3 linked regions of the Homo sapiens genome follow. The protein of the gene in region 1 interacts with the protein of each later gene in a pairwise test. Each region holds a gene or a part of one and is shown on either strand. Other genes may lie near its edges. The genes, in order: HAO2, PECR and ABCD2.

Region 1 (3,658 bases):
ATTTTCAGAAAATTTTTCTAAGTTTATGTGCAAAAATAATAATATTGTATAAACAATGAAAATCTTAGACACCTGAGGCTAAGTATGCATTTATTTAAAAAGTGTGTTTTGCATATTTATTATTTGTAAATTCTCCTACCTTCTTCTAAAGCAGTGTTTAAGTCAAATCTTCAAACTAACTAGCCTCTATCACAAAAGCCTCAATCACTCCCTGGGATTTGTTCTCATTCAGTGACCTTTTCTTACTTTCTGGAGACTTGGGCCTAACCTGAGAGGAAAAGAGACTGGAACCTCTTCCTACCTATTCTTTTCTTTTTAGTCCTTGTTATGATGAACCAAACCATCCAAGTGCTGCAGTGTAGTCTGGGAGGCATGACTCAAAGACACAGACTTCTGACAGAGCAAAGCAGGAATAGTGTGGACTTGGTATGCACAAAGTGGTTCAGAGAAGGTTGGGAAATGGGGAATGAGGTGTTGGAAGCGGCTTTCTGGAGATAAGTCTCCTCCTGGATCAACATAGGTTACTCAGCTCTCAGCCAACTGAACCCACCAAGGTTCCACAGGACCCTGTCTGGTTTAGACTTGTATCAGGAATCAGGGGGGTCCACCCCAGACAACGCCTCCCTGCTGCAGAATCATCTCACCAACAGAAGATCTCTTTGTTGTCCGGCACAGAATTCGCCTCCGTCCGCGGTACCTGAGAGATGTGTCTGAGGTGGACACCAGAACCACAATCCAAGGGGAGGAGATCAGTGCCCCTATTTGTATCGCACCCACAGGGTTCCACTGCCTTGTCTGGCCTGATGGGGAAATGAGCACAGCAAGAGGTATGAACCATCCCCACCTCGAGGCTCCTTTCCGGGAGGAGGTGTCCCTCAGAGCAGTGGCAGAGGCTCCAAGATTCTCTCTAGAAGGGCCTTAGGAACATAATCTGGTTAACACTAAGGAAGGCAGGAAAGGGAATGCTTAAAGCTACGTTTGTGTAACCTAAGATTGAGAAAACATTCATTTTCCATAATAAAGAATAGTTAGAGTGCAAGGGGGTTTACAGATGAATAAGAAGGTGCTAAAATTTAACCAAGTCATCCCTCAGAACAGGGGTGCTGGCCCTTCTGGCTCACACCATCTGTAGGGAAAGGGATGCTTAACGCAGCCCCAAGGCTAGGGCCCTCTTTGGCCCCTGATGGGCCAGGGCTAGGGCTGAATGGCAGACTCTGAATTTAGGATGAGGAGAGAATCACGACATTAGGTCCTAACACAAGGCCCTGGAAGCTGCTGTTGCCCAACTATTCCATTTTCCTTCTCTTCAATTGACCTTGTCATCTTGTTTGACAAAGATTTTATTGTTGGGTTACATCTCCTTCCCAGTCAACCTAATTCTCATCCCACATTCTCCACCACCACCACCACCACCACCACCGCCAATAATAATAATAATAATAATAAATAGAAAAGGAGAGATGGGGCTGAAAATGCTCTTGGGACTCTTTCGTAATCTTCACTCTAAGTCACATCTGTTTTTGTGAATTTCTCAGCGCTTCCCTGAGGTCTTTTCCTTTGACTCCATGATGAAGGAAGCTATGGATTCAAGGATTCTAGAGCTGAATGTGACATCCATCTTGATGGGGTCTAGGGACCAGGTCTAGCTAGGTTGAGATATTAATATCCTATATGAATGTGACTAGTTTACTAAGTCATCATGGTTGAATGTGTTGTTTGGGGGTAGGATGAAAGAATGGGGTATCTCCTGTTGACATGAAAAATTGAAAATGTTAATTTTTGATTAGCCCAAATTCTCTGCCCATGAGTTATAGTGGGACAGTGACATTAACCTGTTGGAGATTTCATTGAAATGAATAAAGTAGGAAATGGGAAATCTGCCAGTCAGCAGCAGCCATATGAACGTCATCACCATCAACTTCATTAGCACTGGTATCTATGCAGTACACCACTTTGCAATGTAAAGAATGCTGCCATAGCTAGTATCTTATTCAGTCTCCCAACAATCCTAAAGACATGTATTATTATTTTCCCTATTTTACAGATAAAGAAAATGAGAGACTCAATGCCACACAGCAAAGAAGGGGTAGAACTAGCATTCTTCTAATTTCATATGCTATGCTTTTTCCACCATGAAGTTCAGGATTCTCCACTGGAACTACATTCCCTCATCCTCTGCCCTCTCTAATTCTCTTCTGCTTCATTAAGGAGTTCATAAGAGGCCCAGTTGCCTGTCTGAAGGCTATAACACAACCAACATGATTCTGGAGATTGCATGGCATCTTTAGCTGGAAATATTTTGTTATCGAGTAGAGGGTTTGTAAGACAGGTTATACAGAGGAGAACCCAAAAAGGTTTAGGTCTCTCAGCCTGATCAAATTGCCTTCCATCCCTTTCTTACAAGGAAGCAGAATGAAATTAAGCTTTATCTGCATTCATGGGGCAAGATGGCCAGAGGCTACACAGACTCCCAAGGTTTTCAGCCCAGTCCAGAGGCCTCTGCCCTCCAGCCTGAGTCATGTCCTTTGCTTTACAGCTGCCCAAGCGGCTGGTATCTGCTACATCACCAGCACATTTGCCAGCTGTAGCCTTGAAGACATTGTCATTGCAGCTCCCGAAGGCCTCCGATGGTTCCAACTCTATGTGCATCCAGACCTGCAGCTGAACAAACAGTTGATCCAGAGGGTAGAATCCCTAGGTTTCAAAGCTTTGGTAATAACTTTGGATACACCTGTATGTGGCAACAGGCGACATGACATTCGAAACCAGTTGAGGAGGAACTTAACACTAACAGATCTTCAATCACCTAAAAAGGTAAGAAAGATACCAAATTCGATGGACAGGCATTACAAGAGGCAAATTTCCTTCCCTCTTTTCTCCTTTCCTCCATTCTTTCTTTCCACAGGCATTTATCGAACACCTGCTCTGTGCCAGACACTGCGGATAAAGCAGTTTCAAAAAGCAGATATGGTTCCTGCTCCCTAGAGTTTCCAGACAAGCACAATCAACATAAGACCAAATGTTCTCACCCTTGGAGCTGCCCAACTTGTCACCAGAAGTGTTCTGGCCAGAGCTGGATGCTGAGAAATAGGAAAGCCACGGAAAATATTTTTGCACGAACTGGAGAGTAAACTAAAAAAGTTCATGTAACATTTTCTACTTTATGACACACTCAGAAAATGCTAATTTTGGATGGCATACATAGACAAACTGACTCTCCAAAGGGGATGTTCATGACCAAAGTGACTGGCCAGACAGTCTAGACAGGCCAGGTTCTACCTTACTGCCTTGAAACTGAGGAATCAATATCTCTGCACACATAGAGCTCATTTGTGGAGCACCAGGATGCTATAGCACATTTGTTTGTAATCTCTGAACTAGGTGACTACAAAGGGGACCTTCCCCATTAAAATCCTACAATTAAATGGCAAGAAGTGCCTCAGAGAGAGACAGCCATGATAAAGTGGGAATCCCTGGCTATAGTAGAGATACTAAAGCCAGCCTTTTCAACCAGTGGGCAACTGTGACACCAAGCCAAGTAACTCAACAGTTCTCATTAATCACAGATTGGCCTTGAGGTGCTCCAAAATCCTTATTCAAATTCCAGAAGCACATTGAGATTTATAAATGTTTGATGTACATGGTGAGCCAAGAGTAA
Region 2 (3,119 bases), on another chromosome or scaffold:
GATTGCAGTGAGCCGAAATCATGTCACTGCACTCCAGCCTGGGCAACAAGAGTGAGACTCTGTCTCAAAAAAAAAGAAAAGAAAAAGTCCCTTATCTAATTTAATCCTCCCAACAGCTCTATGAAATAAATACTGTATGTGTCCCTGCATACAGGAACAAAATAGAGGCTTATAGAAATTAACTTTCTCACAATCATACGGCTAATAAGGGTAGAGCCAAGTTTCCATCTTAGGCATTCTCACCTTGGAGCTGCCAATCTTAAAAGAAAACACCATAGTGAAAGGCTGAATAATCTCATTATTCGGGGGGCAGTATATTCTTAAAAGATAGATGTACCCGCTTTCCTCAAAAACTGAAAAAAATATTTTTAATGATAAAAAGTGTTAGAATTACAAAAGAAAATCATGTCACTGAAGGCCTAAGGAAGAAGCTATTTGAAATTTCTTTCCCTTCTAAAGGTAAAACAGTGCAACCTGCGATAAGAAATAGTGACTGAAGTCTACTGTGAGAGAAGTGGAAAGATTCTCTCCACCCTCACTACTTGGAATTTTTTTCAGAAAACAATATGGCAAAACCATGTAGGTATTTCTTCTTTCCAACCAAGACCCTTAAAACTACAGTATCCTATGGACATCACCACATTGATGTTATTAGTAATGAAATACATGTGGGAGGGGAAAATAATAAGTAAAATTAAAGTTCTATACTGTGATATTGTGAAACATATATTTGGTCTTCAACCCCATCTCCCGCATACAACTCCTAATATCCTAGACTCGCCAAAGTGATGTGTTCTTATATGTTAATGATTGACTGATGGCTGGCAGCCCCTAGTTAGCTTCAGTATAGGGGCTGGTCACCAGACAGACCAAGGCATGATTACAGGGTTGGGACCTTCAGCCCATACCCACCCCACAACCTCTGGGGAGGTAAGAGGGGCTGAAGGTTAAGTTGATCACCAGTGGCTGATGGTTTAATCAACCATGCCTATGTAATGAAGCCTCCATAAAAACCCAAAGGACTGGGTTCAAGAGCTTCCAGATAGCTGAACACATGAAGGTTCCTGGCAGGTGGTGGGGCCAAAAAGGACACAGAAGCTACGTGCCCCTTCTCACATGCCTTGCCCTGTGCACCCCTTCGGCTGTATCTCCTGTAATATCCTTTATCATAAACCAGTAAATCGAAGTGTTTTCCTGAGTTGTGTGAGCTGCTCTAGCAAATTACTCCAACCCAAAGAGGGGGTCGTGGGAACCCCAACTTGAAGCTAGTCAGTCAGAAGTTTTAGAGGCCCAGACTTGTGATGGTGTCCAAAGCAGGGGGCATCCTGTGGGACTGAGCCCTCAGCCTGTGGGATCTGATCCTATCTCCAGTGTCAGAACTGAATGAGAGGACGCCCAGCTGGGGTCTGCTGCAGAACTGCTTGCTTGGTTGCTGTGCGGGGGAAGTAACCCCAAACAACTGGTCACAGAAGTCTTCCGTGCTAATGGTTGTTGTGTTGTGAGAGCAGAGGAAAACCAGTTTGAGTTTTTGCTCGCCTCTCACATACACCAATCATTTATTAACGCAAAAAAGGCCTTAAGCCTTGATCAGACTGTCAGCACCTGAAAGAGTACGTAGACCCTGGGTCCTTGATATGAAATTCAGATTCACCTGGGTTACATCAACCATCTATTAATTTGCTAGTAGCCACTTAATTATCTTTAACAACAGAAATTCAATACATTTGCATTTTATACCCTTTACTACATTTTTGGAGTGATTTAGAGTTATTAGCTTAGATAAACCTTTTAACGTCTGTGGATTTGTTTTGTTGTTTATAAAACTAGGATACTGGACTTTGTGATCTTTTAGGACCCTTCAAACCGCAAAGTTCTGTTATCTAGTCATGAGACACACACACACATAAAGGCATTTGCATGTAATATCAATATTTGATTTAAACTTATAAAACTTCTGGTTTTTTTTCTTGAGACAGAGTCTTGGTTTATCTCCCAAGCTGGAGTGCAGTGGCATGATCTTGGCTCACTGCAATCTCCGCCTCCTGGGTTTACGTGATTCTCCTACCTCAGCCTCCCAAGTAGCTGAGACTACAGGTGCCCGCCACCACACCCGACTAACTGTTATATATATACATACGTATATGTGTATATATATATACACATACGTATATGTGTATATATATATACATACGTATATGTGTATATATATATACACATACGTATATATGTATGTGTATATATATATACACATACGTATATATGTATGTATATATATACACATACATATATATGTATGCGTATATATATATATTTTTTTTTGAGATAAGAGTCTCACTCTGTCGCCCAGGCTAGAGTGCAGTGGCACAATCTCGGCTCACTGCAACCTCCGCCTCCCGGGTTCACACCATTCTCCTGCCTCAGCCTCCCAAGTAGCTGGGACTACAGGCACCCGCCACCAAGCCTGGCTAATTTTTTTGTATTTTTAGTAGAGACGGGGTTTCACTGTGTTAACCAGGCTGGTCTCTATCTCCTGACCTCAAGTGATCCACTTGCCTCAGCCTCCCAAAGTGCTGGGATTACAGGCATGAGCCACCATACCCGGCCAAATTTCTGTTTTTGTACATCAAAAATGATGAATACAGAAATTTCATATGCCTTCATTCAATATATATCTCAAAGAGAGCACAAAATAGCACCATAGCACCCCACCCCACCTAGCAGGCCTGATTCTTCTGCTCAGATATGTAAGCCATTTACTGGAGGAACAAAATGGAATTAAATCTTTAAAACTATAGCATGCTCTTGCCTCTTTTCTGTCTCCTCTTTCGAAACATATACTGAGAATATTTTTCAGGGTTCAAATTCCACCAACCTATGCATGCACAAAAAGCTCAGTTCCATAATATAGATAGTTAGATATTTTCTGTGACTAGGAATATTTCATTAAAAAAATCACATCATGAATATAAACATTTTGTACATTTTGATGTTCTATAAGAGAGCACCCTCATCTCTTAAGTAACTACTTATAATAAATTTTAAACCCCTGAACATGACACAGCATAAAGCTGGTGACTGCTCATTCCTCAGCTGCTCACCTGGTACCTCATACGAGTGAG
Region 3 (3,658 bases), on another chromosome or scaffold:
CCAGGCTGTAAATTTTCTAAACTTTTATGCTCTGCTTTCCTTTCAAACATAAGTTCCAATTCCAAATCATCTCTTTGTGAAGCATAAAACTGAACACTTTTAAGAGCACCCAGATTACATCTTAAATGCTTTGCTGCTTAGAAATTTCTTCTGCCTAAATCATCTCTCTCAAGTTCAAAGTTCCATAGACCTCTAGGGCAGGGGCAAAATGCCACCAGTCTCTGCTAAAACATAGCAAGAGTCAGCTTTGCTCTAGTTCCCAAGAAGATTCTCATCTTCATCTGAGACTACTTCAGCCTGGCCTTCACTGCTCATATTACTATCAGCATTTTGGTCAAAGCAATTCAATAAGTCCCTAGGAAATTCCAAACTTTCCCACATCTTCCCATCTTCTGAGCCCTCAAAATTGTTTCAATCTCTGCCTGTTACCCAGTTCCAAAGTCACTTCCACATTTTTGGGAATCTTTTTTTTTTTTTTTGAGACAGAGTCTCACTCTGTCACCCAGGTTGGAGTGCAGTGGTGTGATCTTGGCTCACTGCAACATCTGCCTCCTGGGTTCAAGCAATTCCCTGCCTCAGCCTCCTGAGTAGCTGGGATTACAGGCACCCGCCTTCACGCCCAGCTAATTTTTGTATTTTTGTGGAGATGGGGTTTCACCATCTTGGCCAGGCTGGTCTTGAACTCCTGACCTCATGATCCACCTGCCTCAGACTCCCAAAGTGCTGGGATTACAGGCATGAGCCACCATGTTAGGCCTGGGTATCTTTATAGCAGCACCCCATCTACCAGTACCAATTTACTGTATTAGTCTGTTTTCATATCGCTATAAAGAACTGCCCTAGACCGGGTAATTTATAAAGGAAAAAGGGTTTAATTGACTCACAGTTCAGCATGGCTGGGGAGGCCTCAGGAAACTTACAATCATGGTGGAAGGCAAACGGGAAGAAAGGCACCTTCTTCACAAGGCAGCAAGAAAGAGAACGAACACAGGAGGAACTACCAAACACTTATAAAACCACCAGATCTCATGAAAACTCACTCATTATTATGAGAACAGCATGGGGAAAACCACCCCCATGATCCAACTGCCTACGCCTTGTCTCTTCCTTGACACATGGGGCTTATGGGGATTACAATTCAAAATGAGATTTTGGGTGGGGATGCAGAAAAACCATATTATTCATTAAGCTTACTTTAAAAACAACTATTTTAATTTTTTTGTCAGGCAGGTCAAACATCTCCATCTTTTTAGAGTCAGTCACTGGCACTTTATTCTGTCCATTTGGTGAGTCCCATTTCCCTGATTGTTCTTGATCCTTCTGGTCATGAATTGATGTCTACACATTAAAGACCTAGAAATTTATTCCAGTTTGCATAGTCTAGCTTTGTCTGAGAAAAGTTCTTTGACAGTAAGCCTATCCAGAAATTCTAGGCAGGTCACCTGTTGTGGTTTCTAAGATAGTGATTGCTGCAGCTATTGCAACACCAAGAGCACTCTAAGCCCAGGACGATGGTGGATGGTGCAGTGTCAGGGTGGAATCCCTTGACCACCAAGGCTGGCACAGTGCTGAGCTGAAATCTGAGCCCCCAGCCACTGAGTCCTGCCTGCCACTGTGGGCTATTTGGAGCCCATGGCTTCTATAGTTTGTTGGTTCGTGGTGATGCAGACCAGAAATTGAGTTTGTCTGACAGGGACAACAGGTTTCTGTCTGGCACTGAGGCAGGTTCAGAGGCTCAGTCTGCAGGTACCAGCAGAAGTGAGGGTCTGTAGGAGTCTGTCTAGTGCTGGGTTTTACTGTGGCAGGCCTGGTAGTGTGTTCCAATGCAAACTCTTATGCTTACATCCCTCTCTTTTCCCCAAGTAGATGGTATTTCTCTCTGAGCTGTGCACTTTGTGGTTGGGACATGGGTGACTTGGAGAATGTAAAACTGCACTTCCTACCCACTCCAATGACTATTTTCTTATTAATATTCTGTAACCAGATACTGTGAACTCTTGCCTGGTTTCCTTAGCTTCTGTAGAGGTAGAGGTATTTTTGTGTGTAGGTAATTTTGATGTTTTCCTGCAAGCGGATGATCACTGTAGAGTCCTATTCCACCATCTTCCTCCACCCTTTGTGCGTTGAAATCATTTGTATAAGTAAAAGAAGTCAGTCACAAAAGGCCACATATTCTATAATTCCATGTATATGAAATGTCTATAATAGAGAAATCTATAGAGAGAGGGGAGATTAGTGGTTGTCAGGGGCTGGGTGGAAAGGGAAATGGAGAAAGACTGCTGATGGGTATTGGGTTTCTTTTGGGGTTGAAGAGAATGTTCTGAAATTACTGGTGATGGTTGCATGAGCTTGTGAGTATGCTAAGAATCATCGAATTTTACGCTTTAAAGGATGAACTTATGGTATGTGAATTATCTCTCAATTTTTTAAAAAGCAGGAGGAAACTGCTTGAAAAAAGCCCACCGATCATAGTTAACAATGACAGACCAGATCTTAAAAGGAAGCAAGAAGTGAGAAAAACTATAAGGGAAGGCAGAAAAATTGAGGACACATAAGAATATAGGCCAGTTCAGCAGTGAAAAAATGCAGGTGGTTCAGCCATGCAGGACCAGCTCTGCCAACTTTTCTTTCACCAAATATCCCCCACAAAGCCGACAGAATGGTGACCTCAGCCTCCTTTAGGACAAGGTGGATCATCTCCTATCTCATCAGTAAAATAATCTCTGTACCTCTGTGAAGTTCCTAATTATGAAACTGAGCCATAAGAAAGAGATTAAATCATATAAAAATGTGGAAGTATCTTTAAAACATTTCTTCTATCAAAGAGTTGTTTTTTAAAATGTTTTTAAACTATATTTATTATTGAGAAAATTTTACTTATGCAGAAGAACTCATTCCCAAAGGATGGTGTATTAATGAGTTGCTATTGTATTTCCTTTATTTTCCTTAGTTTTTCTATGACCTTTTAATGTTGATTTTCTTTCCTCAGCTTCCTTTCCTTACTCCCATCCTAAGAATGCCTTACTATTTATTCAGGAGCCAAATTGAGTTATGAAGAAATTAAATACATGCAACAGCATGTCTTCCTTTACAGTTAATATACATCCAGAATATGAAAAAAATAATAATATTTTCCTAAAGATCAGATTAATGACTTTTGGGTTTTAAAAAAATCACAGTATTTAACTTTTTGATATGTCCTTAAAACTCAAATGTAAAATAGCACCTACTTAAAATTTGCCTTTGGGTATCAATTTGAATGATAAACCTACAACTAAAATGATTTTTCAACATTATGGCTAATAATATTATTTCATTTTAATTATGCAGGAAATACCACACACATTTATTACAGTTTGATGGTGAAGGAGGTTGGCGCTTTGAACAATTGGATACTGCTATCCGTTTGACATTGAGTGAAGAAAAACAAAAGCTAGAATCTCAGCTAGCTGGAATTCCCAAAATGCAGCAGAGACTCAATGAACTATGTAAAATTTTGGGAGAAGACTCAGTGCTGAAAACAATTAAAAATGAAGATGAGACATCTTAATTTGTTTTGACATATTTTAAAAGTTAATTATTAGATAAAGGCTCAAAGACATTCTGTTATACTGCATGAAGTATGTTAAGCTAAGCACAGAGAAAAAAAGGCAGCAAG

The links.
Region 2: the proteins of HAO2 (region 1) and PECR come close enough for resonance energy transfer, tested with the Homo sapiens proteins (one large-scale study listed by BioGRID).
Region 3: the proteins of HAO2 (region 1) and ABCD2 come close enough for resonance energy transfer, tested with the Homo sapiens proteins (one large-scale study listed by BioGRID).

What each region holds. Positions count from the first base shown.
Region 1 is NC_000001.11:119,382,240-119,385,897, forward strand, and holds part of HAO2 (2-Hydroxyacid oxidase 2), read left to right. Parts: intron 1-675; coding exon 676-827; intron 828-2,536; coding exon 2,537-2,814; intron 2,815-2,905; coding exon of another isoform or gene 2,906-2,947; exon of another isoform or gene 2,948-3,658. UniProt on the Homo sapiens protein: Oxidase that catalyzes the oxidation of medium and long chain hydroxyacids such as 2-hydroxyhexadecanoate and 2-hydroxyoctanoate, to the correspondong 2-oxoacids.
Region 2 is NC_000002.12:216,040,806-216,043,924, forward strand, and holds part of PECR (peroxisomal trans-2-enoyl-CoA reductase), read right to left. Parts: coding exon 3,099-3,119; intron 1-3,098. UniProt on the Homo sapiens protein: Participates in chain elongation of fatty acids. Catalyzes the reduction of trans-2-enoyl-CoAs of varying chain lengths from 6:1 to 16:1, having maximum activity with 10:1 CoA. Has no 2,4-dienoyl-CoA reductase activity.
Region 3 is NC_000012.12:39,553,804-39,557,461, reverse strand, and holds part of ABCD2 (ATP-binding cassette sub-family D member 2), read left to right. Parts: intron 1-3,330; coding exon 3,331-3,550; 3' UTR 3,551-3,658.